2 linked regions of the Homo sapiens genome follow. The protein of the gene in region 1 purifies or fractionates together with the protein of each later gene. This does not show direct contact. Each region holds a gene or a part of one and is shown in the gene's direction. Other genes may lie near its edges.

Region 1 (4,607 bases):
ACTTCAGAGTTGAAAGGGAACTTAGAGATCATCTAGGAATTTTTATTTTTGTTTTTAGGTAATTATTTACAACTTTCACTTTCAATGACACATCTCATTGAAATCTCAGAACAACTATGTCAAATAGGAGAGAAGTCATTAATCTCTTTTTACAGGAAGGAAACAAGAGAAGCCAAGACTGTGGCAAGTTAGTGGCAGAGCTGGGGGCAGTGGTTATTAGTTCTACAGAACTTTCCCTGTGGCCCCTGCTAGAGGGTCCTATAACCAAAAGGTCAAATGGCTCTTTCTTATACATCTCCATTGCCTGGGGAGCTCACTGCCATCCAAGACAGCCCATTCTCCAGCAGGGTGGCTTTGATAGTTGGCTGTAATTTGTGGTGGTATAGAATGTGTCACATTGAGAAAAAGTGATTTTTAGGGCTTTCACCCTAATGTGTGTTTGGGGGCCGGAGAGTTTGCAGAAATATTCAGAGAACATACAAAGACAGCCAGAATGACAATAATAATAACAATGCCAACCTGATGGTGTCACATCCCTGTTTATAACCCTTCAATGGCTTCCTGGTTCCCTGAAGAGTGAGTCCAGACTCCTTGATGTGCCCACCATAAGCTAGATCCAGCCTCAAACTACCTCTCCATGCCACACTCATCTCCCCACCCCACCCTGGCCATCCTGACTCCTGTTTGCTTTGCCTGGAATACCCTCACCTCCTCCCCACCCCCACTGGCTCCTACAGGCCTCTGTACTCCCCCTAAAGGCCCTACACGCTGCTGGGTTGTACTTATCCATCTCCCCAGACACACTGTGAGCTGGGAAGGGTCAGGGGCTGCATGGGGTTCCTCTGCCCTGGTGCCCAGCATGGAGACTGGTACAGAATAAGTGATTGCCCCATCCCTGCACATTCACAGACATCTCTGCTGTTCTCATAAGCCAGACCAGGAGAGGGTTAAACAATCATGCTGGCCTAGGATTAACTTTGGCATTAGAGAGGCAGGTGCCCCAGTGTTTTACCAGATGCTTGGAAACCTGTTCTCAGGTCAGCTCAGAGATTCAATCCAGCCAGGTCGTCCCTAGAGCTGACTGAGACCTGTGCCACTCCTTGGGCCCTGAGCTGAGCTGCTGGGGGTGGGAGTGGGGGGTATGTGGAGAGGGTGGGAAAAGCTTGGTCCTGTGCAGGCTAGCTCTGTGGCCTTGGTTGAGTCCTTCCTATCTGCTTAGGTATCCCCAACTGGGCACAAAGGAGGCCGGTCTGGGTGGTCCCACGGGTTCCTCTTGTGAGGACTGGCCAAGAGCAAGGGATCCTCAGACTCCAGAACCCCCTAGCTAGGGGTCCCCTAGCTTGGGAGAGACTTTCTCCACCGCAGGGGTGAGGAAGGGTAAATCTTTAACGAGCTAGCCCTGGGCAGCTGGAGTCTTTCCGGATGGATGGCTGCCTGGGATGGGGGATGGGGTGGGAATGCAAGATGTGTGTAGACAGTCCCAGTGTTGTGGAGAAGGGAGGGTATTGGTGGGGGGTAAATAAAGGAGACGCGGGCGGAGCTAACTCCGTGTGCAGAGCAGGACATGGAAGAACGCGGGTCACCCGACGGGTAAGCAGATCTTCAGACAGGTTCGAGGAGTCCTGAACAGCCGCTAGGTGCAGGTATGATAAGTCGCATTGCTGCCCACAGGGATCTCGCGCGGAGCCTGGAGCAAGGGCCAGAGGGGCCGGAAACGCCCATCCAGGTGGTGCTCAGGTGGGTATAAATTGGCTAGGAGGCACCTGGGCGAGACAAGGATCGAGGAAGACATCAGGATGTACCATCTGCCCTTCTGTCGGACCCCAGGGTACGTCCCATGAGCGCGGCCGAGCTGCGTCGAGGGCAGCAGAGCGTGCTGCACTGCTCAGGGACCCGGACTCTGCAGGTGAGGAACCCCTCTCTCTATCTCCCCAATAAAAAATCCCGGGGACGCCAGATCCCTTCCCCCAGGCAACTTTGCCCTAGGCCCCGCGCTCCCCCGGAGTGGTCCTCTCCCAGGTGCCCCGCCCTCCCCAGAGTGCCCCTCCCTTCCAGGATGCCCAGCCCTCCGCCAGGGTGCGCCGCGCCAACCCCTGCGAGTGCCCCGCCCCTTCTGAGTGCCCGCCCACCCAAGGTGCCCGCCCCCCCCAGAATGCCCCGCCCCTCCAGGGTGTCCTACCCTCCCCAGAATGCCCCGGCCCTAGTGAGTGTCCCCCACCCCACCCCCAACCCAGGGTGCTCGCCCACCGAGTGCCTCACCGAGCGCCCTACCCTTCTCCAGGGTGCCCCGCCCTCCTCCAGAGTGCCCCGCCCTCCTCCCGCGTGCCCCGCCCTCCTCCACGGTGCCCCGCCCCTCCAGGGTGCCCCGCCCTCCTCCAGAGTGCCCCGCTCCTCCGCCCCACCCGCGCCAGGTGAGTCCTCCAGGCGGGGGTCCAGAAGTGGCGTTCCGCTTCGGTGCGGTGCTAGACGCGGCGCGCACGCAGGAGGACGTGTTCCGGGCGTGCGGCGTGCGGCGCCTGGGGGAGCTGGCGCTGCGCGGGTGAGTGAAGCTTCGCCTCCGCTCCGCGCCGGGCCTGGCGGGGCCCCGAAGCACCCCCAGCCCCCACCCCGGGTAGCCGCCGGAGTCCAGCCACGCCCTTGCCGCCCGCAGTTTCTCCTGCACTGTTTTCACCTTTGGCCAGACGGGCTCTGGGAAGACCTACACCCTGACTGGACCCCCTCCCCAGGTGAGCGAGCGCCGGCGGCGCCCCCGCGGGGCGGGGCTGGGTGGGCTGGAAGCCCTGGGGAGCCGCAGGCGGCGCAGACTCCCAGAGGGAAGGGGCTGGGACGACGCCGCCTGACCCGCTTGTTTGCAGACGAGGACGCTGAGGACCAAAGAGAAGGGACTTGCCCAATTTGGAGCATTTGGGCTTCAACTTTGGCCCCTTCCTAGCTCTCAGTTTTCTCATCTGTAAAATGGAAGTGACAGTACCGACTATGAATTAAATGAGCCATTGTTTGGGAACTTGGCACGTTTCCCGGCGCACGGTATCATACATGCGCTACAGAGGGTAGTTATTACTGTGGAGATGACGATGGCTCAGCTGGTTTTGCCCCTAGGGGGAGGGGGTGCCTGTACCCCCCAGCCTGGCTGGCATCATGCAGAGGACCTTCGCCTGGCTGTTGGACCGCGTGCAGCACCTGGGTGCCCCTGTCACCCTTCGCGCCTCTTATCTGGAGATCTACAATGAGCAGGTAAGGGAATGAGAGGAATAGAAAGACAGCCCATGAGGAAACGGAGCGCTTCTTTCCAGGGAGCCTGGATCAAAGGACAGAAGAGGCGGTGGGGACTGTTGTCAGTAAGATCTGGGGATGGGTGGACTCAGAAAGATCCCCTTCCCTCACCCTCCTCCCTCCCCTCCCAGGTTCGGGACTTGCTGAGCCTGGGGTCTCCCCGGCCCCTCCCTGTTCGCTGGAACAAGACTCGGGGCTTCTATGTGGAGCAGCTGCGGGTGGTGGAATTTGGGAGTCTGGAGGCCCTGATGGAACTTTTGCAAACGGGTGTGTGCTGACAGCGGGGAGTTTTGCGGGTAGGGGTGCCCATTCCTCAGTTGTTCACTGAGTGTGGACTTGGGGCCCAGACTGCAGCTGCAGCTTCAGAAATGATTCCTGGGGGAGGTGGGGAAGGACCAGTAAACCACAATTCAAAGGCATGGCCCAAGGGCCTCCCCGCACTGCCAACAAGGCCTGCTAATTCTGCCTTCCAAACTCCTTTCACACCCTCTCCTCTCTAGCCCAGGGCCTCGGCCTCCGCCAGGACTCATTCTTGCTCCCTGGTGGTCTCTGCACCTCAAGGCTCTCCCCTGCCCATCCATTCTCCTCTATGCTGCAAACCCCATCTCTCTTTGCCTCCAGACCCTCCACCCTTCCAGGGCCCTGAGGATCAAGGTCATACCTCTTAGCCTAGCCTAAAGGCCCTTTCAGCCTCATTCTTTTTTTTAAATCAAGTATTTATTGGGCACCCCTCCTTTGGCAGGCACTGGAGATGCTGACTGTGGATTCTGGCCCCAGCACTGTGCCACACCTCTCAGCTGATCTCCTGCCTCAGTTTCTCCCCTTCCTTTCACGAAGCAGTGGGAGAGATGTTTATAAAATGCAAATCTGACTGTCATTCTTCTGCTCAGTTTTCTCTATCCTCCATCCACCCATCTCTGCTAGAGCAGGGCCCAACATCCCATCGTTCCCTGAACAACACCCACTCTGTTGCCTCCCTGCCTTTGCATGAGGCTGACCCTTCCGCCAGGATTCCTTTGCTCCTTTTTCTTCATTGATGATGACCTGTTCTTCCTACCAGGTCCAGCTCCTGATGTTTTTCCCTTCCAGGTCTCAGCCGTCGAAGGAACTCAGCCCACACCCTGAACCAGGCCTCCAGCCGAAGCCATGCCCTGCTCACCCTTTACATCAGCCGTCAAACTGTGAGTGCTCCAGCCTGGGAAGGTGCTTACCCGGGGCCACCAAGCAAGGGTCTGTATCTGGACATATAAACCAACTTGGGTGTGCATGGGGGTTAATAATGGAAACTCTTGGTCCCATAACCTTGTGGCTTTGATGGGGACGGTCCCTCCCAA
Region 2 (3,807 bases), on another chromosome or scaffold:
AGGCCCCGGTGTGTGATGTTCCCCACCCTGTGTCCAAGTGTTCTCATTGTTCAGTTCCCATCTATGAGTGAGAACATGCGGTGTTTGGTTTTCTGTCCTTGCGATAGTTTGCTCAGAATGATGGTTTCTAGCTTCATCCATGTCCCTACAAAGGACATGAACTCATCACTGTGTATCCACAAATTTTTTTTTTTTTTTTTTTTTTTTTTTGAGACAGAGTCTCACTTTGTCGCCCAGGCTGGAGTGCAGTGGTGCAATCTCATCTCACTGCAAGCTCCACCTCCCGGGTTCATACCATTCTCCTGCCTCAGCCTCCCGAGCAGCTGGGACTACAGGCGCCCACCACCACACCCAGCTAATTTTTCTATTTTTAGTAGAGACAGGGTTTTACCGTGTTAGCCAGGTCTCGATCTCCTGACCTCGTGATCTGTCCCCCTCGGCCTCCCAAAGTGCTGGGATTACAGGCCTGAGCCACCATGCCTGGCCAAAAATTTTTAAAAGAAAAAAGAGACTCTTTTTATCCTCACTTTAAACTACCTTTGTATTGCTTTCAAAGTCTGCATGATTATCTTTAAATCCAATCAGTATGACTGAGAAAGCAGTATTTTGTTAGTTTCTTAGTGGTTTTTTGATCAGAGAAATAGGAACTAGTGGAGTAAAGATAAAATAAGAAAGATATGAAATAATTATATATATATTTTTTTCTGAGATGGAGTCTTGCTCTATCTCCCAGGCTGGAGTGCAATGGCGCAATCTCAGCTCACTGCAACCTCCACCTCCTGGGTTCAAGCGATTCTCCTGCCTCAGCCTCCCGAGTAGCTGGGATTACAGGTGTCTGCCACCACGCCCAGCTAATTTTTGTATTTTTTTTTTTTTTTTTAGTAGAGACGGGGTTTCATCATGTTGGCCAGGCTGGTTTCTAACTCCTGACCTCAGGTGATCCACCTGCCTCAGTCTCCCAAAGTGCTGGGATTACAGGCATGAGCCAACACGCCCGAAAAATGCTCATGGGTTTAAGAGAATGTAAAGAATATACATTTTTTACATTTTTAGGAATTAAAATAGATTTATCTCTTTCAACTTTTGTATATGTTTGACATTTTTTATAATATTGGAAAAATATATGAATCTTGTATTTTACTTTTTTAGTTTGTTCATTCAAGTATTTCAATAAAATAGATGATTACTCCATATTCTCAAAGAGGTTTTAAATCTTTTTTAGTGGGCCGGGTGCGGTGGCTCACGCCTGTAAATCCCAGCACTTTGGGAGGCGGAGACGGGCAGATAACAAGGTGAAGAGATCAAGACCATCCTGCCCAATATAGTGAAATCCTGTCTCTTCTAAAAATACAAAAATTAGCTGGGCATGGTGGTGCACCCCTGTAATCCCAGCTACTCAGGAGACTGAGGCAGGAGAATTGCTTGAACCCAGGAGGCAGAGGTTGCAGTGAGCCGAGATCACACCACTGCACTCCAGCCTGGCAACAGAGCGAGACTCCGTCTCCCAAAGAAAAAAAAAAATCTTTTTTAGTGAATGGAAAGTTGGAAAAATTTCACGCAATCTTTTCTTTTAAAGAAGTATATCACAAAATGAAAGGACCTAATAGAAATGAGCAAAAGGTAGTTGACTGATCTATCTTTGTAGTATACTTGCTATATAAATGAGGCTGTTTGTGTGGCAAGTAGATTGAACAGCAAGTCTACTTTTTGTCAGGTGCGTAGCTTTCATTTACAGTGGAGTCTTTAAGGTTAAACACTATTGGAATTATTTTTTATTTCCCTCTACTTATGTCTGTTTTCTTTTACAGCATCCACCCGTTTTGTCAAGTGTGAAAAGTGTCATCATTTTTTTGTTGTGCTATCTGAAGCAGACTCAAAGAAAAGCATAATTAAAGAACCTGAATCAGCAGCAGAAGCTGTAAAATTGGCATTCCAACAGAAACCACCACCTCCCCCTAAGAAGGTATAAGTCTTAAGCTCAGTCTTACAAGTATTTTATCTTGAAAACATTCCATTGCTTCCCTCTCCCAAGTTTACACTGAATCCTAATACTAGTATATAAACAAGTATTATAGGTTCATAATATGGACCATATGTGGCTAAATTGTTATTGCCTTTTGGAATTTAAATATGGGGTCTGTTGCTTTTTCCCATGTTATGATTACTGTATTCAGTGGCAGTGAAATATAGCTAGATAATTATTAAAATGTTAACTTGTTAATACCAAGTTAATCTGAAATAATATCTACAATAGAGCAAGCAACTTCTGATTTATTTTTGTTCATATGGACCCTTAAATAACACCAGCCTAGGCTGGTCCACTTGACTAGCCTTAAAAAAAAAAGCCTGCAATTATCTCCCTTAAATTGGTCTATTTTATGGTAAAACAGCCTTCAGTCTAATAATGTAAGTAAGTAGTTTTTTCATAGCCAGTGTGCCGGGCTGCTCCGTATAGCACTGTGGCTTTGGTAGTGTGGACTCTTTAGAAGTCTCAGGCAGAGTATGATTTGGTCCTGTGAGATGTAACAGAATGTACCACCAGCTCCATTGGGTATTTGGTGTGTGCTTTTTGAGAACTGGGAACCCTTGTACCCTGGCTATGTGCCTTCTGTTCTGGCTGTGTCTCAGATGTTTGCACACTTAGATTATTTCTCACTGCCTCAGTGTATCTTTCTTCTACTGTGTTTAGATATCAGTGCATTTGTCTCTACTTCCAAATGTGCTGTGACAGATTTAATGTCATTGGTATAATTTGTAAGGAATAAAGATGTTTAAAACTATAATAAAATGTATATGGTCAACAACTAAAGAATTTGTCATTAAAAATGGAAAATATATTGGGCTTTATATTCTATACGAATTTGTGTAGACTTTAGACATGTGAGTTAAAATTCCAGGCAGTTTGGCCGGGTGCGGTGGTTTGGTTCACTCCTGTAATCCCAGCACTTTGGGAGGCCGAGGCGGGCGGATCATGAGGTCAGGAGATCGAGACCATCCTGGCTAACATGGTGAAACCCCGTCTCTACTAAAAAAATACAAAAAATTAGCCCGGCGTGGTGGCGGGTGCCTTTAGTCCTGGCTACTCGGGAGGCTGAGGCAGGAGAATGGCGTGAACCCGGGAGGCGGAGCTTGCAGTGAGCCAAGATCACGCCACTGCACTCCAGCCTGGGTGAAAGAGCGAGACTCCGTCTCAAAAAAAAAAAAAAAAAAAAAAAAAATCCAGGCAGTTTAACTAATTTCAGGAGTTTTTGAATTATTTATTTTTTAATCAGGGTTTCACTCTGTTGCCCAGGCTGGAGTGCAGTGGCACACTCATGGTTCACTGCAGCCTTAACCTCCCTGGGCTCAAGTGATCCTCCCACTTCAGCCTCCACAGTAGCTGGGACTGCAGGTGTCTACCACTATGCCCAGCTAATTTCTGTAGAGACAGGGTTTTGCCATGTTGTCCAGGCTGGTCTGCACCTCCTGGGCTCAAGTGATCCATCCGCCTCAGCCTCCCAAAGTGCAGGGATTACAGCCGTGAGCCACCAAGCCCGGCAGGAGTTGGTTAATATTAATTCACCAACCATTTCATTTCTATTCACTAAAAACTTAAAAAATTTACCCCAGGTTCCAAGCTGTTGGCAATAACCAACTGTAGAATAGAGCTTTAGCTACTATTAAGAATAAAGTTTTTAGGGCTGAGCTTGGTGGCTCATGCCTGTAATCCCAGCACTTTGGGAAGCCAAGGCAGGAAGATTGCTTGAGCCCCAGGAGTTCAAGACCAGCCTTGGCGACACAGTGAGACCCTGTATCAAAAAAAGAAAA

Evidence for each region.
Region 2: the proteins of KIF12 (region 1) and CLPX purify together in Homo sapiens (affinity purification with mass spectrometry, with the first as the bait; one large-scale study listed by BioGRID). This does not show direct contact.

What each region holds. Positions count from the first base shown.
Region 1 is NC_000009.12:114,096,234-114,100,840, reverse strand, and holds the start of KIF12 (kinesin-like protein KIF12), read left to right. Parts: upstream 1-1,548; 5' UTR 1,549-1,564; coding exon 1,565-1,590; exon of another isoform or gene 1,591-1,671; coding exon 1,672-1,737; exon of another isoform or gene 1,738-1,827; coding exon 1,828-1,906; intron 1,907-2,379; exon of another isoform or gene 2,380-2,411; coding exon 2,412-2,539; intron 2,540-2,650; coding exon 2,651-2,726; intron 2,727-3,099; coding exon 3,100-3,234; intron 3,235-3,404; coding exon 3,405-3,540; intron 3,541-4,362; coding exon 4,363-4,454; intron 4,455-4,607.
Region 2 is NC_000015.10:65,164,787-65,168,593, reverse strand, and holds part of CLPX (ATP-dependent clpX-like chaperone, mitochondrial precursor), read left to right. Parts: intron 1-1,808; coding exon 1,809-1,963; intron 1,964-3,807. UniProt on the Homo sapiens protein: ATP-dependent chaperone that functions as an unfoldase.